Linked DNA regions of Homo sapiens. The protein of the gene in region 1 purifies or fractionates together with the protein of each later gene. This does not show direct contact. Each region holds a gene or a part of one and is shown in the gene's direction. Other genes may lie near its edges. The genes, in order: EFNA2, GPR107, MYO19, OAF, JAG2, PCSK6 and METTL13.

Region 1 (4,289 bases):
GAGACCTGGAGCTCAGAACAGACGGGCTGAGCTCCCTGGAGGAGAGAGAACTGAGAACCTTGTCCTGGCAGGGACGCTAGAGCACTGGGTGGGACAGACCTTTCTGGAAGAGCAAGATTTTAACAGGAAGAAAAAGTGGAAGGACTTCCCAGCAGGACCCAGCCTGAACAAAGGTCAGGTGGTGTGGCCCGCGTGGCCCGCTGGGGAATCGGGGGAGGAGGGCACGCAGGAGACACAGGACAGAGCCCACCACGTCTCAGAGCTGTGGGACGGTGGTGGGTCCGGTCCCCACCCCACCTTGCTGGGGCACAGGTTAGCTTGCCCATCTCTGGGTTCACGGTCCCTGCCAGGAGTTTGGGTAATGCCTCACACAGGGACCTTCGGGTCCAAGGGCTGTTGGTGCTTGCCCTGCAGTTCCCTCTCCTGCACTGGGCCTGGTGAATGACACTAATTCAGAGACGTACAACACGATCTGGGCATCGCCAGCAAAGTCCAGCCAGCGTTTGATGACAGCCTACCCTCCACAAGCTCAGAGTCTGGTGAGGGAGGCTGTGGCATGAATAAGGGCAAAAACAGAGGGCAGGCCAGGTGCAGTGGCTCACGCCTGTAATCCTAGCACTTTGGGAAGCCCAGGTGGGAAGATCGCCTGAGCCCAGGAGTTCAAGACCAGCGTGGCCAACATGGCCAGACACTGTCTCTATAGATTGGAAAAAAGACAAAGCAGAGGCCAGGCCCCCAGTTCCCCACCTGTGTCAGCCTACCAGGAGGAGAAATCACTCGGCGTTCCCTGAACAGATCAGACCCCGGGTCTTTGCACAAGCTGTGCCCCCGGGCAGCGGCCCTCCCCTGCCTGCAGGATTCGTGCGTGGAGACTGATTTGCTGTCGGCCGGGGCTTCACTCTGGGCTTCTTGGATCCCATCCCCAGCTGCTCACACTCCACATCGGTCCACCTACTATGCTCCCGGCACCCTTAGGGCTGAGGTGTAGGGACTTACTCCATCCCCAGGGAACAGCGTGGGTCCGGAGAGGCGACTCCCAGGAGGGCCCCAGGGAGGTCGCAGCCCGAGCAGCTTTGGACTTTGGCCAGCGCCCCTCTGAAACTCTGCCCCGGCCCCCGCAGGGAGACTGGAGTTGGCCGAGCCCGATTTGGGACGCGTGCGTCGGGGTTGGTGAGGCTGCGGATAGCGCTGGAACCGGGCAGGTGAGAGGCCCGGGACCCAGGGCCGGGCCGGGTGGAGCGCGTGGGGGCGCGGGAGGCAGGGTGCGCCCCCGCCCCTCGGAGACCCCAGGCCGGGCCACGCGGATGCCGGCGGGGGGCGCGCAGAATCGGGGTCGCTGGGGGCAGGCCCCGGGGGACGAGCCTGAGACGGGGTGGGCCGGGGCAGGGGGCGGGCGCAGGCTGGAGACCCCCGCCCAGTCCCCGCGCGGCCGGGGCACGGCGGGAGGGGGCGCCCGCGGCCCTCCCGACGCTCGGGCGGGACAAAGGCCGGAGCCCGGGCCCCTCCCCGGCGGGTGCGGCGGCGGCGGCCCGCGCTCCGACAGTCCGCGCGGCCGGGTCCTGCGCCCGGGGCGACCCCGGCGCCCCGCCCCGCCGCCGCCTGACTTCTCGGCGCCCGAGGTCGCGCGCGCGGAGGCGGGGGCGGCCCGGGATCTCCAAGCGCCGCCGCGCCCTCCTCCCGCCCGCCCTCCGCCCGCCCGCTCGGCGGCGGCGGCGGCGGCGGAGGAGGCGGAGAAGGCTGGCAGGCGGCGGCCGGGAGAGCGAGCGCGGCGGCCGGACCGGGGCCATGGCGCCCGCGCAGCGCCCGCTGCTCCCGCTGCTGCTCCTGCTGTTACCGCTGCCGCCGCCGCCCTTCGCGCGCGCCGAGGACGCCGCCCGCGCCAACTCGGACCGCTACGCCGTCTACTGGAACCGCAGCAACCCCAGGTGAGCGCGGCCGCGCGCGGGGGGCGCCCGGGGACCCCCCAACGCCCCCCAAGCCGCGCCCGGCCTCGCGCCCCCGGAGCTCCGGGCGCCCCCCACGCGCGCGCCGCCGCCGGGATGCGGGCGCCCGGTTCCCGCGGGAGCCCCCCAGGGAGCTCCGGCCCCCCGGAGTTTGGGGGACTCGCCCTTTTCGCGCCTGCCTTCCCCGGGGCGCCCCATTGCCCTACGGACTGTGGGGACTCGCGCCCCACATCCCCCAGAGCGCCGACGTCTCCTGGAGTTTGGGGAACCCCTCTGGTACCCTCCGATGCCGGGTAGCCCCTGAGTTGCCTGCCTGGACTTGGGGGGACCCCTGATCCACCCGCTTCTCTGGGGAGCCCCCTCGGTTTCGCATTTGGTGGGGATCCCCGGGGACCTTGGCACCGGAGGTGGGGGACTGTGGCCCTCGAGGGATCTCTGGGTTCGTCCTGCCCGCAGGTCCCCAGATGAACTTGGGGAAGTTGGAGTGTCCCTCCCTCAGGACCCAGCATCTGCTTCACTCCAGGGGGCCAAGGGCCCAGCTTTGAAAGGAGACTGAGGGGCCGGGGAGCTGGGGGTCAGCCCCGGGAGGGGCAGTGGGATGGAGTCCTCTCTTGTCCTCTGGGCGCTGACCAGGAAACTGAGGTGCAGAGGGGATGAGGAGCTGGCTCAAGGTCATGCAAGGGGGGGACTTGGGGGCAGGACCCAGGTGGCCCAGTGCCCTGCCTGCCACGCCCGGCCGAGATGCCGCACCCGCCTGCTGCAGGCCCCCTTGTTTTGAACCAGGTCCGGGCCAGGCACAACGTGGGGGACAGGAGAAGCCCCCGTTGGTCAGAGCAAAAAAAGTTTGCCGGGGCCTGGCCATGGCCTGGACGTGGGTAGAACCCTCTGAACCATCCCAGGGTCTCCAAGACAGGAGCAGGCTGCAGCTTCCCTGGGGGTCCCGTGGGAGCCGGGGCTTTGGGGGTCCTGGGGCTCGGGAGGGAGTCAGCCCCAGCACTCAGGGTGTCACCGTCTTCCTAAGGCACACGGAGCTGCACATCGGGGGCTGAGGCGGCCCCCCCCCACTCTTCTGCTACTGGTCACTTTCTCTCCGTTTTCCAGCCGCTTCCTGTGCCGACCGAGCCGCCCTCTGGAGCCCGCCACCCCTCCTTGTCCCCTCTGTCTCCTGCTGTCCTCGGTCCCCGGGAGGAAAGTTGCATGAAGGGGTCTCTTTGAGGCGGGCTCGGGGACAAGGGCGGCCCGTGTTCCGCCGTGGGGGTGGGGAACACGCACAGGCCCACCCCCCACCCTGGTCAACGGCCTCGGGTCGGGCCCTGGGGGCTGAGGGCAGGGACCCCGGGCCGCTGGGGGACGGCTGGCCCACCTCAGAGCGGGTCCCCGAGCCGCCCGCTGTGCTGGTCACATGTGGGTTTGATTAAGGCTGTCGCTGGCCGTGCGGGGAGTCCAGCGGGCAGCGCTTCCCCGGCCCAAGTTTTTGGTTTCAGCTGCGGAATCTCCCGTCCCCAGCGTGGCCTGTCCTTTGTTCTAGCAAACGCCAAACACACGAGGACCCGGCAACCGGGGGAGGAAGGTGGTCACCAGGGCCGTCCTGCTGCCCCACCTGCCACAGGGCTGTGGGCTGCGGGCCGGACCCCCGGCCAGGGGAAGGAAGTGGCCTCCCCAGTGCCTGGCTTGGCCCAGCCACCTCCTGTTGCTCCGGGTCTGACCTGGTTGCCCAGCTCAAACCGCTGCCTGAGGGAACGGCCTTGCTGGTCCGCAGAGCCGACCTGGGCAGCACCGAGGCTGCCTCCTCCTTCCTCTCCTGCCTGCGGTATCCAGGGTTGCTGGGGACGGAGCCGACACCCTGCAGTGGGGCCCAGGGCTGGGTGAGCACCTTCCCGGGAAGCCGGGATCCAGCCAGAATCAGGGCTTTGTCGCGGACATCAGGGGTCTCTGCAGTTCTCAGATTTGGTGTCCAGGGGCACCTGCCCGGGACCTGTGCCTGAGTGGCGGGGGTGTCAGGCACAGCAGGGGGTGGTGCTGGGCCTCCGTATCCAAGGGGACCCTGTGGAGGGGACATCGGCTTGGGGAGAGGAGTGGCGTCAGCCGGCAGGCCTAAGGTGTGAGGCTGGGCTGGCCGGGGAGGGATGATGGGGTCGGGCAGGTGTGTGGGGGATGCGGGGACCCCAAGTCTTTGAGAGGGGCATACAGAAAGGCACTGGAGACGGGGACAGCCGCGATGGGGGGCAGACAGCAGCGTGGGCACCAGGGGACCGTGTGCTCGATGGGGCCTGCAGGCCCGGGCAGTGCCGCAGCGTCGCCGGCCGCCCCTTCCGCCCATTGGCCTGGCACCTGTGCCCAGGCGAT
Region 2 (3,500 bases), on another chromosome or scaffold:
TGGGGGTCTTTCTGTGTTGCCCAGGCTGGTCTTGAACTCCTGTCCTCAAGTGACCCTCCCACCTCAGCCTCCCAAAGTGTTGGGATTATAGATGAGAGTCACCAGGCCCAGTCCTAACTTTTTTTTTTTCTTTTTTTTTTTTTTTTTTGAGACAGAGTCACACTCTGTGGCGCAGGCTGGAGTGCAGTGATGCAGTCCCAGCCCACTGCAGCCTCGACATCCTGGGCTAAAGCAATCGTCCCACTTCAGCCTCCTGAATAGCTAGGATGCCACCACAACTGGCTAATTTTTTTTTTTTTTTTTGCTAGAGATGGGGTTTCTCTGTTGCCTAGGGTGGTTTCAAACTCCTGGGCTCAAGCAGTCTGCCTGCCTCAGTCTCCCAAAATGTTGGGATTATAGGCGAGAGCCACCTCGCCTGGCCCCTCACCCTTTTTTTTTCTATCAAATGTTACTGAATATAGCTTTTTACATTTAATGTTGTATCATGATTACTTTCCCTTGTTAGGAAATGATAATGTGAAAATGGCTCTCATATCAGATCTAGTTTGAAGCCCCAGCTTTATTAGCTATAGTCTGCTTGGCCTCAGGTAGTCATTTCTCCTCTGAACTGGTGTCTTCATCGCTACCGTGGGGCTGCTTCTCTTAACCACACTGAGCTGAGCGAGGGTCAGAAATCATAGGTAAAGCCCTTGGCACATAACCTAGTTCTTGGAAGACTCTGAAAACTGGGAGTTGTGATGCTGTTGTTATTATCATTATTATTATTATTACTATTTTTGTTTTGTTTTGTTTTTTGCGATAAAGTCTTGCTCTTGTCCCCCAGGCTGGAGTGCAATGGTGCAATCTCCGCTTACTGCAACCTCTGCCTCCCAGGTTCAGGCGATTCTCCTGCCTCAGCCTCCCAAGTAGCTGGGATTAACAGATGCCTGCCAGCAAGCCTGGCTTATTTTTGTACTTTTAGTAGAGACGGGGTTTCACCATGTTGGCCAGGCTGGTCTCAAACTCCTGACCTCAGGTGATCCGTCCGCCGCGGCCTCCCAAAGTGCTGGGATTACAGGCGTAATCCAGCCTTATTATTATTATTTTTGAGACAGTCTTGCTCTGTTTCCCAGACTGGAGTGCAGTGGTACAACCCGGCTCCCTGCAGCCTCTGCCTCCTCGGTTCAAGCACTTCTGCCTCAGCCTACCAAGTAGCTGGGATTACAGGCACACACCACCACACCTGGCTAATTTTTGTATTTAGTAGATATGGGGTTTCACCATGTTGGCCAGGCTGATCTTGAACTCTTTCTATTTATTTATTTTTTTATTTATTTAATTTTTTTTTTTTTTTGAGATGGAGTCTCGCTGTCGCCCAGGCTGGAGTGCAGTGGCGTGATCTCGGCTCACTGCAGGCTCCGCCCCCTGGGGTTCACGCCATTCTCCTGCCTCAGCCTCCCGAGTAGCTGGGACTACAGGCGCGTGCCACCTCGCCCAGCTAATTTTTTGTGTTTTTAGTACAGATGAGGTTTCACCGTGTTAGCCAGGATGGTCTCAATCTCCTGACCTTGTGATCTGCCTGCCTCGGCCTCCCAAAGTGCCGGGATTACAGGTGTGAGCCACCGCGCCCGGCCTTGATCTCGAACTCTTGACCTCAGGTGATCTGCCTGCTTTGGCCTCCCAAAGTGCTGGGATTACTGCCATGAGCCATCGTGCCCAGCCGATGCTGTTTTTATTGTTTAAAATAGTCTTCAAAAACCTGTTTTTCATGGCATTGTATCATCAAATGAAATGATGATGCAAAGGTTTAAAAAAAAGGAATGTACTATTTATGTTGGGGGGGGAACTGCTATCAGGTTGCAATCGAAACATTTTCTGGAAAAAAAAAACAAAACAACAAGAAAACCTGTATTGTGGTGGCCTAAGTATAAATGAAAGCCTAGCAGGTTTCCATTCTGCTGCAAAGCAGCTTCATGCTGGACCAATTAGAAAAGACATACTTTTAAAATTAAAACTTTATTGAAATGTAATATACATGGCTAAAAATTACTCATTATAAGCAAACAACTCAGCGCATTTCCAGAACGTAGACACACTCATGCAGCCCGCAGGAAATGAGGCAGAACCATTACCAAGCCCCTCCAGAAGCACCCTAAGCCTCACCTTCCCTCAAGTCCCAGGAAAGCCCCTTTCTCCTGAGAGTGGTCACTGTCTTCACCTCCGTCACCACAGATGATTTCCCCCTGCATTCCAGTTTGTTTTACATGAATATGGCTGTGATTCATATACGTTGTTTTATGTGGCAGAAATTGTGTGTTCATTTTCCCTCATCCTCTCCCTCTGCAGTCCTGCTCCACTGAGGATTCTGCCAGAGAATGAAGCCCTAATGTGCTAAGGCATCCATTTATGTAGTTGAGTTAATGTCTCCTGTGCCTCTAGGAGGGTAGTCATCATATACTGTCCTTGAGAGAATTGAGAAAATAGATACTGAAGACATTTTCCGTGGGTTTAATTCTCTCAGAGAATTCCAAGAAAGGCTGGGAGCCTTAGCTTTTCTGGCTTTTACCATTGACCCACTCTTGTAGATTCCAGGAGATGACCTCTGTTATCTTATCTGGCTTTTCTAATTGTTCTCTGTGAGAATGTTGGTTTGCTGCAAGCCACTCCAGCCCACCAGGAAGTGGAAATCCAGCAAACATGTTTTCACCACATAGCCAAGCTCCTAAGAAAATAAGGGAAATTCCCAGGGGCCCAAAAAAGGGAAGAAGGAGCTGAAACTCCATTGGGGAAAGAACAGGGAAGCCAGGGCTTCCCTGTGACGTTGCAGAAACTTGAAGCCCAGAGGCCTGGGTTTTTTGTTTGTTTTGTTTGTTTGTTGTTGTTGTTTTTGAGACAGAGTCTCACTGTGTCACCCAGGCTGGAGTGCCATGGCACGATCTCGGCTCACTGCAACCTCTGCTTCCCGGGTTCAAGTGATTCTCCTGCCTCAGCCTCCCAAGTAGCTGGGATTACAGGCATGTGCCACAATGCCCGGCTAATTTTTTTGTATTTTTAGTAGAGACAGGGTTTCCCATTTTGGCCAGGCTGGTCTCGAACTCCTGACCCCAAGTGATCCTCCTGCCTCGGCCTCCCAAAGTGCTGGGATTACAGGCGTGAGCCACCACGCCCGGCCGAGTCCTGGGTTTTTAACAGATGTTGAGGGGAAACAGGGACCATAGCCTTAGGCCTGAGCAGGGAGGTGAGTTGGAACTGTGTCCCTCTGCTTCTCAGCCCATAATCTAGGGCTGTCAAAAAGCTATGAATGCAAGAGTGGGCAGGAAAGAAAATCCTGCTAGTGATAGTGCAGTGTGGTGTAGTTCTGTGGGGGAGAGGAGGGGATTTAGTTTATGCTGTTTCTGCCAAAGATCTGCTCCACAGCCTGTCCTCACAGGCCTTTGGTGTTTGCCATTAGACTACCCGGGATGTCCAGGAAACCCCAAATCTAGAAATAAAAAGTTACCCTTCACACCAAGAATCAAATT
Region 3 (3,500 bases), on another chromosome or scaffold:
CAAATATCTAACAGTGGTGACATCATGGCCAAATGATGGACTGGACCATCCCTATGATGCAGCTAAGTGTTTTTGAAGAATATTATAAATTTAATGGAGAACCACTTCCAAAATGATATTCATACCTAGATGTCAAACTACATATTAAGGGCGATGCCCTCCTTTTAAGGTGTGTTTGTGTGTGTGTAGGCATTAAAAAATTGTATAAGGAAGCTGGGCACAGTAGTTCGCTCCTGTAATCCCAGCATTTTGGGAGGCTGAGGTGGGAGGATCACTTGAGCCCAGGAATTTCATACCAGCCGGGCAACATGGCAAAACCCTTTCTCTACTAAAAATACAAAAATTAGCCAAGTGTGGTAGTATGCACCTATAATCCTAGCTACTCAGGAGGCTGAGGCAGGAGAATCACCTCAACCCAGGAGGCAGAGGTTGCAGTGAGCTGAGATTGCACCATTACACTCCAGCCTGGGTGACAGAGCAAGACTCTGTCTCAAAAAAAAAAAAAACAACAAAACATAATTAACCGTGCCTGGTGGCACATGCCTGTAGTCCCAGTTACTCCAGAGGCTGAGGCAAGAGGATTGCTTGAGCCTGGGAGATTGAAGCTACAGCCTTACGGAGGCTACAATAAGCTGTTCGTGCCACTGCACTCCAGCCTGGGCAAGACCCTGTCTCAAAAAAAAAAAAAAAAAAAAAAAAAAAAAGAAACAAAAAGAAAAAGAATATGCTGAAATTGCAGAGAAGGGAATAAAAATTACCACCATCTATTAATTGTATCAGTGTTTGGGTATATGGTGATGTGAGATCAGGGATGCATAAAGCGAACAAATTCAACTGAGGATTAAAAACAAAACAAAAAAAAAAGTTTTTAAAGGCACAGACAATCCAGACCCCTCCCATTCCCTGGGTGCTGACCTGGACCCAGCCTGAGACGGGAAGTGATTGCTGGGCCCTCAGCCAGTCCTTCTCCCCAGTGCCCCTTCACTGTGTTGTGTAGGTGTATTCAAGTGTGTGGGCAGTGTAAGGAATGTTTAAAAGCCAATTTTGCCTTATGTATTGATTTTAGAACCTTATTTGTAGCAATTTATTGAAAAAAAAAAAACGTATTTGAAACTTTGACAGCAACTGTGGTGCTGCTGCAGCGAGGTCACTGACAGCTCTAATGGCCCCTTTATTATCTCTTTCCTGTTTCTGGGCAAACCTCTTAGCCATTCGTTCCTGGTTAACTCGGAAACACATCCAGAGGCTGCATGCAGCTGCCACAGTCATCAAGCGTGCATGGCAGAAGTGGAGAGTAAGTAAGACCCAAGAAGTCGGGGTGGGCAGTGGATCAATTTTGGGGACCAGATGGACCCGAGTGGGAATGCTGGCTCTGCCACTGCAATGCAGGTGGCCTTGGGCAGGTTGTTTAGCCTCTCTGAGCCTCATATTCCTCATGTATGCAGTGGGCACAGTAACACCTACCCTGCAGGGTGGTTATGTAGGTGAAGAGTGGTATAAGCAACTCTGGGAATATACCAAACTCTGGGATGTACACTTTAGAAGACTGGGTTTTATGGCATATCAGTTATATCTTGATGGACTCTTATCTTGTTTTCAAGTAGCATATGTAAGGCCTAAGCACAGTTGCCTGGGGTGTATAGACTTGTGGCATATGGAACCAGTTTGGTTCAGGGCAGCCAGCTGTTTGCAACCAGGTGCCTTCAGTTCACCTTGTTAAGATGATTTGTTAAAGATAGTTTTGATTTCCATTTTCTGCTAAGAGGGCTAGATAAATCTAAAGCTATAAAGGGATATTTGCTTTTTAAGATCAGAATGGCCTGCCTTGCTGCTAAAGAGCTGGATGGTGTGGAAGAAAAACACTTCTCTCAAGCTCCCTGTTCCCTGAGCACCTCGCCGCTGCAGACCAGGCTCCTGGAGGCAATAATCCGCCTCTGGCCCCTGGGACTGGTCCTGGCCAATACGGCTATGGGTGTAGGCAGCTTTCAGAGGAAATTAGTGGTCTGGGCTTGCCTCCAGCTCCCCAGGGGCAGCCCCAGTAGCTACACTGTCCAGACAGCACAAGACCAGGCTGGTGTCACGTCCATCCGAGCGCTGCCTCAGGTACGTTGTGTGTGATGGCCATGACAGCTTTGTTCCTGAGAACAGCAGGAGCAAAGCCTACAAGTTCACAGCGGGAATGAGACTGAGGCTGGGACAAGATCCATCCCTAACCCTACTGGGTAAACCAGAGGGCTGCATGTCCCAATCAGCTGCAGGTTTGGATTATTTATTTTGTTATAACTGGGAATCTTCCAGAGCCCTTTATCTTTTTAAAAACTGCTTCTAATTATTTCAGCATCTCTAAATCTTCTAGTCCCATTTCCAAATGCAATGCTGCGTTTCTAGCAAGCTCCCAGCTGATTCTGATGCTCCATGAACCACACTGTGAGAACCAAGGCTTTAGATGAGTCAGGAGCAGGAGGTGATGAAAGTTTAGCTTAGGGCCTGGAGCGGTGGCTCACGCCTATAATCCCAGTACTTTGGGAAGTCGAGGCGGGTGTATCACCTGAGGTCAGGAGTTCAAGACCAGCCTGGCCAACATGGCGAAACCCCATCTCTACTAAAAATACAAAAATTGGTTGGGCGTAGTGGCAGGCGCCTGTAGTCCCAGCTGCTCGGGAGGCTGAGGCATGAGAATTGCTTGAATCTGGGAGGGAGAGGTTGCAGTGAGCCGAGATTGCGCCGCTGCACTCCAGCCTGGGTGACAGGACGAGAGTCCATCTAAAAAAAAAAAAAAGTTTGGTTTAGGGTAATAATAGGTCAATTACAGAAAAGAGGAAAAATTCACGAGACATAGCAAAAAAGAAACTACCCAAGACTTGAGAGCAAATAATCTAATTAGTCCCACATCACAACTTGGGTTGTGAGGAGTTTGTTACCTCAAATGGCACTGGATTTGGCACCATGTTTTCCCCAAATTGTATTGCTTGGTTTTTTCCTTTTCTGGCTGACGAAATGACAAGCAGGGTCAGTGGTCCAAGTTCTCTGTGGGTTTTTTTTTTTTTTCATGTTATTTAATTTTTTGAGACGGAGTCTCACTCTGTCGCCCAGGATGGAATGCAGTGGGTTTAAGCGATTCTCCTGCCTCAGCCTCCCGAATAGCTGGGACTACAGGGCATGTGCCACCATGCCTGGCTATATTTTTTTTTTTGTATTTTTAATAGAGACGGGGTTTCGCCATATTGGCCAGGCTGGTCTCAAACTCCTGACCTCAAGTGGTCTGCCTGCCTTGCCCTCCCAAAGTGCTGGGATTACAGGTGTGAGCCACCGTGCCCAGCTGTTTTTATATAAGCATCCAGGGAAAAGTCAGCCAGCACACTCAGGAAGTCATTGTCACTCAGGGCTTTGTGAGTCACCCCAGTAAGCCAGGCCTCATAGAATTAAAGTGGCCGAGGAAAGGTGAAAGTATGTTGCACTGGGAGGTAGAACCCCAGGGTCTGGATCCTGGTTCTGCCCCA
Region 4 (3,500 bases), on another chromosome or scaffold:
CCCTCACTGTGCGAAGTCTTCCCTCCCTCATGCCACCCCCAGCCCCAACCTTAAGGGGACAACGAGCACTCCCTCATCCACCCTTTACCTCCATTGCACTTGGAGTAAACCTCAATCCTAGGCCTATTGTTTGCTGACTTGAGTTGTCAGAAGTCAGCCTCCTCCACCATCCCCTGGAAAACAGGAATCTGTGTCTTGGCCAAGGCCACTCCCCTGCCCAGGTGTTTGTGAAGGCCCTGCCCCATGTCCTGCTAATCAGTGCTCTCCCACTGATTGGCTGATTACTTGCAAGCCCCAGAGGAGTCACCTGACCTGTCTAGGCCATAGGTACATCTAGAAGAGAACAATCTCAACTCCTGGGTCTTCAGGAGTGGAGTAGATTTCAGGTGGAGCAAGGCAGACATAGAGCCAGGAATTGCAGCCACAAGAGAGAAACTGAAAGTTCAGCCCACTGTGTTCTGAAACCTTTCACTCATTTATTCCCTGCAACAGTCCCTTGAGGTAGATACTATCATTTTATTCAGCTTGCCAATGTGGAAACTATGGTACAGAGAGGTTAAGTAAATCCCTTCAAGGTTATGTGGCCAGCAGAGGCAAAGCCAGGATCTGAACATGGGTAACACTGGCTCCAGAGCCTTTGTTCTTAAATTCTGTGCTATCCTAGAGCCTACCTACTCCTTACTTAAAACTACAGACGAGGACCCTAGCAAACACTATTTCCCCAGGGTACTTGCCACACCCTCTGCGTGGCCCAGATCCTGGCCCTGGATGTAGTATGCTCCAGTTCTTCCAGGTAGGCTGGAGATTCCTGGAAGCTTGTGGGAGAAGGAGCCTTATAACAACCTCCCGTCTTGGGGACCCTATCCTGGGTCCTGAGCCTCAGGAGCCTGCCTGCAGTCCCTGTTGTAGGCTCTTCCCCAGCTAAGCATCTGCTTTAGGTGTTAGGCCACATGAAGTACGTCATCCCAACAGATTCCTGGGCAAGGAGGAAGGCTGGGAGTCAGGCTTCCATCTGGCCTGGGCTTAGCATCTGAGGGGACTTTCACCCTTCCCTGTGAAGGTTGGAAGAAGAGGGGGCCCCAGAACCTTGCCAGGGAGTCTGAGGTGCAAGGAGTGGAAAGCGGGAGGGACACTGGTCAGGATGATGGAGTCCTGTTACCAAATAGACCCAGAAAGTAGGGCTGCCCACTCCTTCTCAGGGATCAGCAAGTGGAATGTGCTTTTCTGGGGAAATAGGACGAAAGGGCCGGGCGCAGTGGCTCACACCTGTAATCCCAGCACTTTGGGAGGCCAAGGCAGGCGGATCACCTGAGGTCAGGAGTTCGATACCAGCCTGGGCAACCTGGTGAAACCCAGTCTTTACAAAATACAAAAATTAGCCGGGCATGGTGGCACATGCCTGTAATCCCAGCTACTCCAGAGGCTGAGGCCGGAGAATTGCTTGAGCCTGGGAGGCGGAAGTTGCAGTGAGCCGAGATTGCACCACTGCACTCCAGCCTGGGTGACGGAATAAGACTCGGTCTCCAAAAGAAAAAAAAAAAAACAACCATGCACACAAAGGAGAGACCGGAGAATTTGTAGTTTAAAAAGTCCTGGCAGAGGCCGGGTGCAGTGGCTCACGCCTGTAATCCCAACACTTTGGGAGGCCGAGGCAGGCAGATCACAAGCTTAGGAGATCAAGACCATCCTGGCCAACATGGAGAAACCCTGTCTCTACTAAAAATACAAAAATTAGCTGGGTGTGGTGGCCCATGCCTGTAGTCCCAGCTACTCAGGAGGCTGAGGCAGGAGAATCGCTTGAACCCGGTAGGTGGAGGTTGCAGTGAGCCGAGATCGCGCCATTGCACTCCACCCTGGTGACAGAGTGAGACTCTGTCTCAAAAAACAAAACAAAACAAAAAACAAAAAAAGAAGTCCTGGCAGGGCAGGCAGGCGGGTTAGAAGGGTATTCCTGCCTCCTCTTCTCTTATTTGTGTCATGCTGTTTGGTAGTTGCAGGAACCACGAGCCAGAGCCGCCACATTCGAAGGCAGGTGTGCTGACTTAAGGCAGGCTGCCGCCAGATGGGCATGATGGGGAGCGGGTCCTAATCCCACCTCTGCTGCTGGCCAGCTCAGGCATCAAGGGCAGACCGCACAACCTCTGTGTGCCCGAGTTCCAGCTTCTTTAGCTGAGCATCAAGGAGATGAGACTAGCTGATCCAGGAGGCAATTATGGATTCTGGTTAAGAGAGCTCAGGCTTTGAAGTCAGACTGTCTGGATTAAGATCCTGGCTATGTTTCCTCTTAGTCCATGACGTTGAACAGGTTACCTAATCCAAGCTCGGTAACAATCATAGCTCCTACCGCCTGTTGTAAGGATTTTAAAAAGGATCATACATCCTTTTGACCCATGGAAACAATGTTTTTTCTCTTCTAGTTACAAATTTCAGTAACTCTTTTTCCTATACAAATAGGAGATACAGAGGAAATCCTCTCAGTGAGAAATTATCATTCCCTTCCTGCACCCCCTGTCAGTTCCCATTTTGACAGCATTTTGTTATTGTCATTGATGACATTATTAATATAGAAGCAGGAAAAAAGCTCAAATAGATTTCTTTCATCCTCTAGTCTGGTCTGAAAGTTCAAATACCTTCTTTTGCCAACGGTAGTCAGGTGATGTCACCAAGCAAAGAGACCCCTGAGCAGCCCTGAGACTTCCGGATATTTCCTGCACCTGCGGTATTGGAGAAGATGCTGTGAATATCCAGATAGGCTTCTCTCCAAAGAGTCAGAGCTGAAAATACCAGGGAAGTGGTTTTTGGATCCTTCCTGGGGGATCCTGCCAGGGACATGGCCTGGCTCAAGCTCTAGCAGGGGAAGTCTGGTATCAAGTCTCACCTGGCAGGAATTGAGCCCAGAATGGAATATGCTACAGGCAGAGCAGCCTCCCATCTCTCCTCAGCCGACCTGAGTGAGGGGAAGATCAGATAGCCCAGGCTGGCAGGACAAGGAGATTGCAGCACCATGACCAAGAAGGGATTTCCTGTTGAGAGGAAGCAGGGGTTGGCTGAGCTCTGATCACCTTCTTCACAAATCTCTGGGATCATAAGGAACCTAATGGAACCTTCCTCAACAGCTGAGCCTCAGTTTCCCTTTCTGGAAAACCTCCCCCTATACTTCCATACCTCATCGTTCCAGAGATGATTTACAATAATGGCAAGTAAGAGAAACTCTGTAGAGTTAAAGGACTGCAGAAATACATGGGCATTTATGAGATGACATGCACTCGTTTGTTGCAGACCACCTACGATGCTTGCTGGTCACCTACAAGAGTAATCCCAGCTAGCGCTGACCCCATGTGAGAATCTTCAGATAACTTACTTAGTCCTCACCACAACCCTGTCACATAACTGGGATCATCCCCATTTTACACATCAGAGAAATTAGGGGAAAGCCTGGAGGACTCACTAATACATTGCAGCTTCGGGGCGGAGCTGTGAGTCCCTTGCCGCATGTATTG
Region 5 (3,500 bases), on another chromosome or scaffold:
GCTTTTGGGCTCCTTGGAGTAAAGGGAATGAGAGGGCCTTGTGGAAGAGGAGTGGGGGAGTCTGGGCTCTGCATTCGCTCCCTCCACCCCCTGCCCCCTGAGTGACTCTCCCACCTTGTGGTCTCTGCTGTTGACCCAGGCCTGGCTGGGTGGCCCTCTGCCCCCTGGCCTGGCTTCTTGTGGCCGGGGTCTGTGTGCTATTAGTCATGGATCTGTGCTGGTCTCGGGCTCAGCTTCCCTCAGTGGGTGGGCCCAGGGTCTTGAATGTGGAGAGGTGGTGGACCACATGCCAGCAGGCTGCCTGGCTGCCCCTCCTCTCCTGGCTCCACCCCCAGACGTCCCCAGGAGGCCGGTGTCAGCCTGGGTTGGTTCTGGTGCCTGGCTTGTAGCTGGCAGGGTGAGGCCACATTCTCCCAGCTGCGTGTGTGCACGCACCCCGGGTGCTCTGTAGGCATGGCAGGTGGTGATGGAGGTTTGGGGAGGAGTAGTGTCATGCTGGGGGCAGCAGGGAGCTTTGCTCTGGGGCCTGGTAGGTGGCAGGCCCAGGGGACACCTGCTGGCTGAGGGAGGAGCAGGGTGGTGGCAGTTGGCCGTGACCTGGGCAGCCAGGGCCCCACCCTCAGAGGTGCAGCTGGAAGTCGTGCCTGCCTGGCTGGCCCATCTCTGGAGCCAGGAGCCCAGGAGCCTGCCTGCCAGCGAGGGTCTTTCTTGTTCTGTCTTGGCATGTGTGTGCTGGGCTCCAGGGCAGCTGTGCGGGGTGGTGTGGCTGGAGCATGGTCCCCGTGACAGATCTGGGCTTATGAGGAGAACGGGATGGGTGAAGGCCCTGTAGATACAGGAGGTGGGCCTGGGGCTGACCCTGCGTCTATCAGCTCAGGAGGCCTGAGGTCCTGGGCCATCAGAAGGGCTGAGCTTTTCTCACCTGTGAAAGGGGCACACTGCCGCTTTTTCATTGCAGGTCTCACGAAGTCAGATGGGGCTGCTGGACTCCCAGCTCGGGCTCTGCTTGTGCCCCCAGCCCGGCTCCCAGACCTGTCCAGTTCCTCCCCTTCCCAGCCTTCCCTACCCTCTCCTTTGCCCCCTAGGGAGGAAGGTTTTTACAGAGCCCACCCCCTGCATCCAGCCGCCCTAGGGCTCAAGGTGGGCCAGGCTGAGGTCTGTGCCTGGAGCTACCTAAGCTGCTCGTGGCAGGTGTGAGGTTCAGCACCACTCTGCTTCCTGTTTTTTCTGAGCTTGGGCTGGGGATGACAGGGCCCTGGCCTCCCCACCCTACCTTCAGGGGATCCTGTCTGCACACTGGGGACCACCCCCCTCCTTCCCACACCTTCCCAGTAGGGACCAGGAGAGCTGGCTGGTCTGGTATGGAATGTGGGCATCTGGGTTCCTGTGTTGGGTGGGCATCGGTCTGTTCCTCCTGCCATGGCCCTGGGGCCCAGAGCCCTGGGGAGAACTCAGGGCATGTCCGCCTTGTACATTGGGGGTCTGGTTCAAAGCTTTGGTATGGGGGCAGGGTGGGGCATTCAGTGCCCAGGCAACACGGGGACCATTGGAGCCAGGGAGGACTGCCCTTGGCCAGGGAGGATTGGAGAGTGGGCTGGGGGTTTGTCGCTGGTCCCTGAGGGTGGGCTGAAGGGTCAAAGCCGCAGCACGATAGGAAGGCTGGGAGGTGGAGGGGCGGGTTGGGGAGCAGGCGGCAGGCCTGGGTGGGAGGGGACTGCTGCTCTCAGGGGCCCTCCTGGGCTGCTCCATGGTGTCTTTATGAGGGGAGCAAGCTAGGCCAGTGAAGGGGTGCTTGTGGAGCCAGGCTTCGGCCTGAGCTGCTGCTGGTGGTGGAGTGGGGGCAGGAAGACAAGGATCTGCAATCCCAGGCCCCAGCCACAGTCGCTATCCCCAGACCCCAGGCCTGAGCGGGGTCCCTGTCCCCAGACCCTAGGCCTGATTGGAGTCCCTGTCCCTAGACCCCAGGCCTGAGTGGGGCCCCTATCCTCAGGCCCCAGGCCTGAGCTGGGTCCCTGTCCCCAGGTCCCAGGACTGAGCAGGGTCCCTGTCTGCAGACCTGAGGCCTAAGCAGGGTCCCTGTCCCCAGACCCCAGATCTGAGTGAGGTCACTGTCCCCAGACCACAGGCCTGAGCGGAGTCCCTGTCCTCAAGACCACAGGCCTGAGCGGAGGCCCTGTCCCCAGACCACAGGCCTGAGCGGAGTCCCTGTCCCCAGACCACAGGCCTGAGCGGGATTCCTATCCCCACATCCCAGGCCTGAGCAGGGTGTGGCTGGCATCAGTTGTACCCTGGGCTTTGTGGCAGGTGCTAGCCGGCCCTGGCTGCCACCGTCTTCACGGTGGGGGACCTGGGACCTAGAGGGGGTGTGCTGGGGAGTGGGGGTACACCCAGGCAAGGCCCTGGCTGGTCTCTGGTGTGGAGCATGGGTGTGTGTGTTCCTGCGTGGGATGGGCTTTGGTCTGCTCCTCCTGCTGCGGCCCTGGGGCCCAGAGCCCTGGGGATGGTGTTTGCCCCCACCCCTTCTTCCCTGCCTCGGGTGACAATGGTGGCAGAGGCCTGGGCCTCTCAGAAGCTCAGGTTTCAGGAAATGTATCTGTGCTTGGAGCTCCTGGCGCCTGCACCAAGCGCTGTGCTCCGTAGGGGGCGGGAGGCTGATGCGGGAGGCCGAGGAGAAGAAACCAAGTCGGGGCGTTGGTGGGGCAGCAGGTCTAGGAGGCTGTGTTGTGTTGGCCTGGACCGTGCAGGGCCCTGGACCTGGGGGGGCCGTTAGCGGGGCAGCAGGGAGGCTGTGTTGGCCTTGACCGTGCAGGGCCCTAGACTTGGGTTGCCTGAGTTTTGGGATGCTGTAGATTGGGGTACAGTGGGCAGTGGGGTGCCGTGGACTTAGGGTGCTTGGCATTTGGAGTACCCTGGGCCATGAGGTGTGCTGGGCCATGCAGTGCCCTGGGCTGGGGGTGCCCTGGACCTGGAGTGCCCTGAGCTTTGGGGTGCCCTGGACTGTGGGTACACTGGGCCATGGGGTGCACAAGGCTGTGGGGTGTACTGGATCTAGGGTGCCCTGGGCAGGAGGGTACTCTGTACTTTGGGTGCCTTGGACCTGAGGTGTCCTGGGCTTTAAGGTGCCCTGGACCTTGGGGTGTGCTGGGCCATGCAGTGCTTTGGGGCTCTGGGGTACCCTGGGCTTTGGGGTGCCCTGGAACTGGGGTGCCCTGGGTCTTGGAGTATGCTGGGCCATGCAGTGCCCTGGGCTGTGGGATACTCTGGGCTTTGGGGTGCCCTGGACCTGGGGTACCCTGGGCTTTGAGGTGCCCTGGCCTGGGGTGGAACATCTATTGTCTTGTCTGCCTGTCCTCTGGCTTGTGCCACTGCTGTTGCCCCTGCCTGGGGACAGGAGGAGGGGTTTAGACTTAGCCTTGAGGGTTCGGGCTGGGGAGGAGGCAATCAGATGGTGGGAGATGAAGTTGGGCTGCGGGTCTGCTTGTGCGGTGGGGGTGGGTCAG
Region 6 (4,021 bases), on another chromosome or scaffold:
TTTTTGTTTTACTTCCTATATTAAGCAGGTTGATGGCTTGCTTTCTGGAAGTGGGCCAGTAGGACCAATGGGTCCTGGGAGGGATGACAGAAGAGATCCAGCAGCGATCCTTACCCTTCATAATTCCTTGATTATGGTGTGAACATTTCCATCCATCTCCAGGGTGCTTCAAATCATTATCCACTGGATACCAGGCTGCTCCAGGAAGCAGGGGTGAGGATGATTCAGCTGACTTTCTACTGCTGGTCCCAGCTCAGTGGGTGCTTTTAAGAGTGTACATCGTCTAGTGAACACCTACCACACGGCAGGCCCTGGGCTCATAAAAACGAACGTTTACGGACAGCTTATTGTACAGCAAAAGCTGACCTCATCCTCAAATCAGCCCGACGGGGTAGATGCCACTGTTCCCCGCATTTTGCAGGTGGGGCGCCTGCCCTCAGCCACCACAGTCATTTGCCCAAGATCGCAGCGAGGCTAAGCGGACGGCCTGGGGGTTCACCTGCACGGCCTGGGGGTTCACCTGCGCGGCCTGGGGGTTCACCTGCACGGCCTGGGGGTTCACCTGCGCGGCCTGGGGGTTCACCTGCGCGGCCTGGGGGTTCACCTGCACGGCCTGCCTCCCAGCATGGGCCGCGGCCTCCGCCATGGGCTCCGTGCGGTGGTTTCTCGGGTACACGCTCGTGAGCCCGGCTGATGCGCCACATGCCTTTGCCCCGCTCAATGTGTCCCTTCAGCCAGGCTTGGTCCCGGGCGACCCACTGTCTTCCCCGCAGCTTCTTCTCCCTGGGACCCCGCACACGGGCGAGCCCTCCGTCTAGGGAGGCGGGCGAGGCCGCCAGGCGTCTGAGGCCCCCGCCAGGTGAGTGCGGCCTTCGGGTGTCCGGCCGGTCTAGGGAACCGGGGACTCACCTGAGACGCCGGGGCCTCCCCGCTCCCAGCAGAACTCGCGGGCCGAGGACGCCTCTGGGGCGGCACCGCGTCCCGAGAGCCCCAGAAGTCGGCGGGGAAGTTCCCCCGGTGGGGGGCGTTTCGGGCCTCCCGGACGGCTCTCGGCCCCGGAGCCCGGTCGCAGGAGCGCGGGCCCGGGGGCGGGAACGCGCCGCGGCCGCCTCCTCCTCCCCGGCTCCCGCCCGCGGCGGTGTTGGCGGCGGCGGTGGCGGCGGCGGCGGCGCTTCCCCGGCGCGGAGCGGCTTTAAAAGGCGGCACTCCACCCCCCGGCGCACTCGCAGCTCGGGCGCCGCGCGAGCCTGTCGCCGCTATGCCTCCGCGCGCGCCGCCTGCGCCCGGGCCCCGGCCGCCGCCCCGGGCCGCCGCCGCCACCGACACCGCCGCGGGCGCGGGGGGCGCGGGGGGCGCGGGGGGCGCCGGCGGGCCCGGGTTCCGGCCGCTCGCGCCGCGTCCCTGGCGCTGGCTGCTGCTGCTGGCGCTGCCTGCCGCCTGCTCCGCGCCCCCGCCGCGCCCCGTCTACACCAACCACTGGGCGGTGCAAGTGCTGGGCGGCCCGGCCGAGGCGGACCGCGTGGCGGCGGCGCACGGGTACCTCAACTTGGGCCAGGTGAGTGCGGCCGGCCCCGCGCGCCCAAAACTTTCCCGGCGGCCTCCGGCGCGCGCGAGGGGGGCGCCTCCGCAGTCCTGTCCGCCCGGCCCCGGCCCCGCGCGCGCGTGGGAAGGCTCCGGGACCGCTTGGGGACGGCGGGCGGCCGGGGCGCCCTGCGGGGGGGGGTGTCGCCCGGGGGGGCGCGCGCGGGACACTCGGCGGGGTGGGGGGGACTGGGGTCCCGCGTGGGCGCCCACGCAGGTCCGGCGCGCCGACCGCAAGTCCCCCGGCAGTGCCGCCCAACCCCGCGCTCGGAAGTGTGGCCTCAGAAGCCGGGGCGGCGCGGACACCTGCCGGGCTCCGGGGGAGTCTGGGCTGCCTCAGGCGTCGCGCGCCGTCCGCCGCTGGGTCCTGGGCGCCCACCCGGCTCTCCCCCGCGGGGGAGCGGCCCCTCTGCCCTCGACGGGCGGCGCGAGCTCCGGACCCGGTGCGCGCGCCAAGGCGGCCGCGGCCGCTGCTTGGGTGACATGAGCGTGGCCCGGCGTCTCGGGGACTCGCGCTCCCTCGGTGTCCGCGGCTCCCGGGGGTAGATGGCCGGGAGCCTGCACCCTGGAGCCCGGCCGCCGTCGGAGAGGCCTTGGGACAGCGCAGGGCCGGGGGTCCTGGGTTTAAAACCTCTCCAGGAGCGGAGGGAGGGCGCTTTGTGTGGGGGCTTCTGCCGCGGTTCTGATGGCCGAGCGGTGTGACCTTTGGCAAGTCGCTCCCCTGACAAGCTCCTTTGCAGTCAGTGGCAATGTCTACACCGCTGGGTTGTCGGAAAGATCTAATGCTGCGTTGCCACAGAGCCTGGACCGGGGCCTGACCCTCACCGGCCCCCACGGGGCCCTCCCAGCCCCGCAGCCCTCGGCTGTCCCCTCTTCTGTCAGTGAGCAAGCAGGCCACGCCCTGGGCACAAAGGCGGCATTACCCTCAAAGGACCTCCCGGCGGGTCCCTTTTTCCTCTCTCAACCAGCTACCGGGCTGAGGGGCGGTGAGTTGGGGTTGATCCATGTTTATGGCTCCTGGAGAGGCCGTTATTTTGAGGTCACACCAGGGGACCTCTCAGTGCAGTTAACAAATCTACAAACTACACACTCAGAGGGTTAAGTGAAGTGACAGGGAAGCACCGACTCATAACTCTAAACCTTAGTGCCAGGCAGTGTTAAATGTAGTTTCATCGTTATCCGTGGCAGAAGCCAGCAAGGTGTGGTGGCGTCCCTGATTGATAGAAATGACATTAGTTCTGCATCCCAAGCCCCACGTTGATGTACTATTAGGTGTGTGGCTGGAGGGGTGGATTCCACCATTCGAATGAAGGAATCTTCACAAGGCAGGTTCGAGTTTACTGAAAGAATGCTAGCACATCTTTGGAGACCTTTTAAATATATGCATATATATATATAAAATGTTACATATATACACATATACACACATACATATACGCACATGTATATCCATATAGATATTTAGTTTTTTTAACCACTCAAGGCCCTCCAAACATCCTGTGATTTCAGATTTTGCCGTCGGGTAGCACTGACTTCGTTTGTCTCTGTAGTTCTTGACTCTCCCTGGCTGATTGTCCAGGCTGAAGAAGGTGTTCCTCATGTTTGCGTAGTGCCCCTGGCTCCTGCCACACTTCGCTGCTGTGCCCAGGTGGCCCAGCAATTTGTCTTCAGCTAAAAGTGACTCTTAAACTACGCGATAAATTACAAAGTGCCTGGGTTTTGGGATTCTAAAATTAAATGAGCAGAATGGAGCTGAAATTGAGCTGTGAGCTCACACTGCAAGAGAGAGGCAGAGAGGCACAGGTAACTCTCCCCGGAAATTTCTATCTGTGGGAATAAAAATGCCTAACCCTTGGCCATGCCGCCCCTTTGAGACAACCTCTGTCAGGCTCACTGAGTTCTTAGTGCAGTCTGCTCTCCTGGTTTTGCGGATGGGAGAGAAGATTCGCCCCGATGCACACTCCGTACCCAGGATATTCTGGGGAGTTAATCGGGGTCTCCCCAGCTCTGTCTAGTGCAGCCAGCATGAATGCCACGCAGCCCGGTCACTCAGGCATGGTGCTGGCAGTGGCACTGCGGTGACATTCACTAACAGAGATTAGCTGGTTGGGGATAGGAGCTGTCTCAGAGGCTTGTGTGTGATTACTCACGGAGGGCCTATTACTCTTTATTCCAAAACGAGCTTTTCTTTCCCCCCTCTAAGTGCACTGCTAATGTGGAAAAGGCCTGGAGCATTTGAGCCTCTACCCACTCAATAAGAACTCTTTGAAAACCTTATTTGCCTTTTTTTCAGCCAGGAGAATTTGTGACTCATAAATAAGATGTAGATATTATTAGCTTTGACTTACAGATGAGTAAATGGGGGTGAAGTAAGGGAAGGAAGCTGTTTGTGTTCACATGGTACGCATATGTCACCTCTGACAGTTCCATCCCTGCTCAT
Region 7 (3,500 bases), on another chromosome or scaffold:
TTAATGTCTTCGGTTTAAAGGCATCTGTTTTGCAGGTGCTCCATATACATCTGTGTATTGTTTCAATAGGCCTCTGTGAGGTGAGCCAGAACTATGGAAGTTGCAGGTGAGCCCTGCCCTCCATAGTGTGACTCACCTGTTTCAGAGGGTTTTGGATTGGCGGGTGACTTAGAGGCCTTCTAGTATACCACTGTTCAGTAAAACTGCCTGTGATGAAGGAGATGTTTAGTTCCTGAGTTTCTAATGTGGTCGCGACTAGCCATATGTAGTGCTGAGCGTTTGGAATGTGGCTAGTGTAACTGAGGAACTGAATTTTAATTTTCTTTAATTCTAATTAATTTACATTTATATTTCAACAGCCATAGGGGGCTAGTGGCTAGTATTGGACAGTGTAGATCTAAACCATCTCTTCTAGGATCCCTTTAAGTGGTCTCCCAGCTGTCACTCAGAAACTCCCCCGATGGGGAATCAATAGTTTGTTTTACCTGTGTTAGTTTGTATTTTAAAAGTGATACTTGTTCATTGAAATCACTTCAAAAGTCAAATATAGACCGCGAAAAGTGAATGCCCCTCACCTCTCCGTCTCCAGTGCATCTTCCCTGTCTGAGGCGCAGAGATTCAAGGATGGAAGCTGAAATGGCTCTCCTGATTCCCAGTTGTTCCCTTTGCCTGACTGGCCTGCCCTCATAGCAAGGCCATCTGGGAGGAGGGTGGAGACAGAGAATTCAGATGCTTGAGGTCATAGACTGGCTCTGAGCCTAGAATCAAGTTACCCAGCGAAATGGTATTTTTCTTTAGGGGTTTTCCCTGGCCAAGAGCACCCAAGATTGTTGGGTTTCTGCCCTATTGTTTGGTCACTGTGGCTGCAGGTTGGTCCAGTTTCATCTCACTAAAATCTCAGTAAAATTGCTTAAAAGAACATTTTGCCCCTTTCAGTTTGGGTTTCAGGTTTTTTCACCATTGTCATGTTCCTTGATTTCTTGGTAGCACTTTGTTCTCATGGAAAGAACGTTCTCCCTCATGGGAGTATTGGTGAGCAAGAAGGAGAGCATATTAAAAAGTGATTTAATATATCTGAAAAGCACCCCGACTCCACTCATCAGCACTTTTTACTGCTGGGGAATGCAGCTGATCCCTATGAAGACACAGCCATCCGTTTAGTATGATACCCTGGAGCAGGGAAGGGAGTGGTGAGAGGGAAAGTGGAGTGGCTTTTTAGGATTTATTTCCTTTTTTGAATACTTGTGATTTCCTTCTTCAGCAAAGGTTGGTAGTGCTACCTGTGTGGCATAGCAGAAAGATGATAGGTGATGGAGACAGGCAGTCCGAGGATCAACTCCTATCTCTACCATCTGCTGATTCCCTATTTACTTAACACTTCAGTGGCTTAGTGTGTTCATGTGCCAAGAATTGGAATGATAAGGTTGTTAGAAGAGCTAAAAAAATAAAAGTTACGGTATAGTAATTGGCACATAGCAGGTGATTAGTAACTTTACCTTTCTTTAAAAGACTTTATGAGTAATCTTTTCTCCTGTTAGTGGCCTTACATTTCTTAGACGGGAGGTACCAGGGCTCCTCAGTTGAGTTTTCCCAGGTTTTTGAGTGTGCATTTGCCATTTCCTTTTCCAGCTTCCTTGTATCCATTGTATATGTTAAATGTTTAATGACTATGTCTTTGTGGGGCGGGGTAGGGGGGGCACATCCTAATTTATAGTGTTTATCAGTTCTCTAGTATAAATACCACCACTGTATTTGTTTGTTTTACGTTGCTTATAAAGGAATACCTGAGACTGGATAATTTGTAAAGAAAAGACTTTTATTTTGGCTTATGGTTCTGCAGACTGTACAAGAAGCATGGTACCAACTTCTGCATTTGGTGAGGCTTCAGGAAGCTTACAATTATCACAGAAGGTGAAGGGAGACCAGGTACATCACATAGCAAGAGAGGGAGCAAAAGAGATGCCAGGCTTTTTTCAACAACAGCTCTAGAGTGAGAACTCACTCAATACCATGGGGAAGGCACCCAGCCATTCATGAGGGATCTGCCCCCGTGACCAGCATGGTGGCTCCGACATTGGGGATCACATTTCAACGTGAGATTTGTAGGGGACAAACATCCAGATGATTTCACTACGGCCAGTTTCAAGCTATCAACATGATGTCAACCAGTTTGCAAAATTTTAACGATTGGGTCTTTTGAGTGTTCAAGCCATCTGGAGCACACTGCTGCCAGTAACCCTTGCTTCCTGAGGACTAGTGTACTAAGCATAGGGCTTCATATCTCTTGTTTAGCCCAGAAGAAGCGGAAAAAGGACAGGAAGAAGCAGCGGCCTGCTGATGCGGAGGACCTCCCTGCAGCCCCGGGGCAGTCCATTGATAAGAGTTACCTGTGTTGTGAACACCACAAAGCCATGATCGCTGGCCTTGCCCTGCTGAGAAACCCAGAGCTACTCCTAGGTGAGAGAGATGCCACTGCCTTCCACAGAAGGGAGCATAAAGATTACAGACCTAAACAATTGGTGTCACTTGCATTGTAGTTGAAGAACAGCAATTACAAGCTGACAATGTATCTTTCTTCATCTCAACCATGTTATAAGTTAATGAGCATTCTAATTAACTGTTGCCTCAAACTCAACCTGTTATATTGAAATTGTATTGAAATATGTTAGAGTCTAAGTGGTATTTTTTCTGTTCATTTCTTTTTAAAATTAAGGTATATCATGTATTCAATGAGATATGTAAAAATACACAGATTTTAATTGTTCAGCTTTTCTGTAATGCATTATTTGAACAAAAGATGCAATTCTATCTTGAATTTCTACTTTCTGAAAAGATTCATATTATAGTTAATGCAGTCATAGCCTTATCGCTAATAGCAGGTTTGGATCTGACTGCATTAGTGAAATTGTTCATGTTTTGTCTGTGATTGTAACCGTTTTCACCTGAAGTCCCTGAATGTGCCTTCTTGGAATACCCTATACTTTTGTCCTATCTTAGTGTTGATGTATGTCACTAGAATCTCAGTTCTTAGATTTAATTCTCAGGGTCTGTCTCCTTCGGGTGACTTTTGTTGTCTTCCTTTGATCCCCCTGTGGTGGCTGTGCTCTGTGCTTAGGAGTAGGAGTTGGGCCTTTGTTTTCCTGTGATTTGTGGAACTTGAATGGCTTACCCTTACTTGGTGAGGGTGTCTGAGAAGACGGTGTGGCCTTTTGAGTCAAGGGCAAGGGACATTGCACCTCTGCTGCCTTGTAATCATGAGCAAGATTGTTTGGCCACTCTTCTTCCCTTTCCTAGAGAGGGTCTAATAATTCTTATAGTGAAGAAGTCTTTTTTTTTGAGACAGGGATTTACTCTTGCCCAGGCTGGAGTGCAGTGGTATGATCGCAGCTTACTGCAGCCTTGACCTCCTTAGGCTCCCACGTCAGCTTACCGTGTAGCTGGTACCACAGGTGTGTGTCACCATGCCCAGTTAATTTTTCTACTTTCTATAGACAGGATTT

Evidence for each region.
Region 2: the proteins of EFNA2 (region 1) and GPR107 purify together in Homo sapiens (affinity purification with mass spectrometry; one large-scale study listed by BioGRID and IntAct). This does not show direct contact.
Region 3: the proteins of EFNA2 (region 1) and MYO19 purify together in Homo sapiens (affinity purification with mass spectrometry; one large-scale study listed by BioGRID and IntAct). This does not show direct contact.
Region 4: the proteins of EFNA2 (region 1) and OAF purify together in Homo sapiens (affinity purification with mass spectrometry; one large-scale study listed by BioGRID and IntAct). This does not show direct contact.
Region 5: the proteins of EFNA2 (region 1) and JAG2 purify together in Homo sapiens (affinity purification with mass spectrometry; one large-scale study listed by BioGRID and IntAct). This does not show direct contact.
Region 6: the proteins of EFNA2 (region 1) and PCSK6 purify together in Homo sapiens (affinity purification with mass spectrometry; one large-scale study listed by BioGRID and IntAct). This does not show direct contact.
Region 7: the proteins of EFNA2 (region 1) and METTL13 purify together in Homo sapiens (affinity purification with mass spectrometry; one large-scale study listed by BioGRID and IntAct). This does not show direct contact.

What each region holds. Positions count from the first base shown.
Region 1 is NC_000019.10:1,284,384-1,288,672, forward strand, and holds the start of EFNA2 (ephrin-A2 precursor), read left to right. Parts: upstream 1-1,489; 5' UTR 1,490-1,785; coding exon 1,786-1,925; intron 1,926-4,289. UniProt on the Homo sapiens protein: Cell surface GPI-bound ligand for Eph receptors, a family of receptor tyrosine kinases which are crucial for migration, repulsion and adhesion during neuronal, vascular and epithelial development.
Region 2 is NC_000009.12:130,070,906-130,074,405, forward strand, and holds part of GPR107 (protein GPR107 isoform 3 precursor), read left to right. Parts: intron 1-3,500. UniProt on the Homo sapiens protein: Has been proposed to act as a receptor for neuronostatin, a peptide derived from the somatostatin/SST precursor.
Region 3 is NC_000017.11:36,496,869-36,500,368, reverse strand, and holds part of MYO19 (unconventional myosin-XIX), read left to right. Parts: intron 1-1,056; exon of another isoform or gene 1,057-1,208; coding exon 1,209-1,294; exon of another isoform or gene 1,295-1,809; coding exon 1,810-2,103; exon of another isoform or gene 2,104-2,602; coding exon of another isoform or gene 2,603-2,763; intron 2,764-3,500. UniProt on the Homo sapiens protein: Actin-based motor molecule with ATPase activity that localizes to the mitochondrion outer membrane. Motor protein that moves towards the plus-end of actin filaments. Required for mitochondrial inheritance during mitosis.
Region 4 is NC_000011.10:120,221,032-120,224,531, forward strand, and holds part of OAF (out at first protein homolog precursor), read left to right. Parts: intron 1-3,500.
Region 5 is NC_000014.9:105,162,277-105,165,776, reverse strand, and holds part of JAG2 (protein jagged-2 isoform a precursor), read left to right. Parts: intron 1-3,500. UniProt on the Homo sapiens protein: Putative Notch ligand involved in the mediation of Notch signaling. Involved in limb development.
Region 6 is NC_000015.10:101,486,908-101,490,928, reverse strand, and holds the start of PCSK6 (proprotein convertase subtilisin/kexin type 6 isoform PACE4-AI preproprotein), read left to right. Parts: upstream 1-1,221; 5' UTR 1,222-1,258; coding exon 1,259-1,555; intron 1,556-1,775; exon of another isoform or gene 1,776-4,021. UniProt on the Homo sapiens protein: Serine endoprotease that processes various proproteins by cleavage at paired basic amino acids, recognizing the RXXX[KR]R consensus motif.
Region 7 is NC_000001.11:171,788,160-171,791,659, forward strand, and holds part of METTL13 (eEF1A lysine and N-terminal methyltransferase), read left to right. Parts: intron 1-2,292; coding exon 2,293-2,457; intron 2,458-3,500. UniProt on the Homo sapiens protein: Dual methyltransferase that catalyzes methylation of elongation factor 1-alpha (EEF1A1 and EEF1A2) at two different positions, and is therefore involved in the regulation of mRNA translation.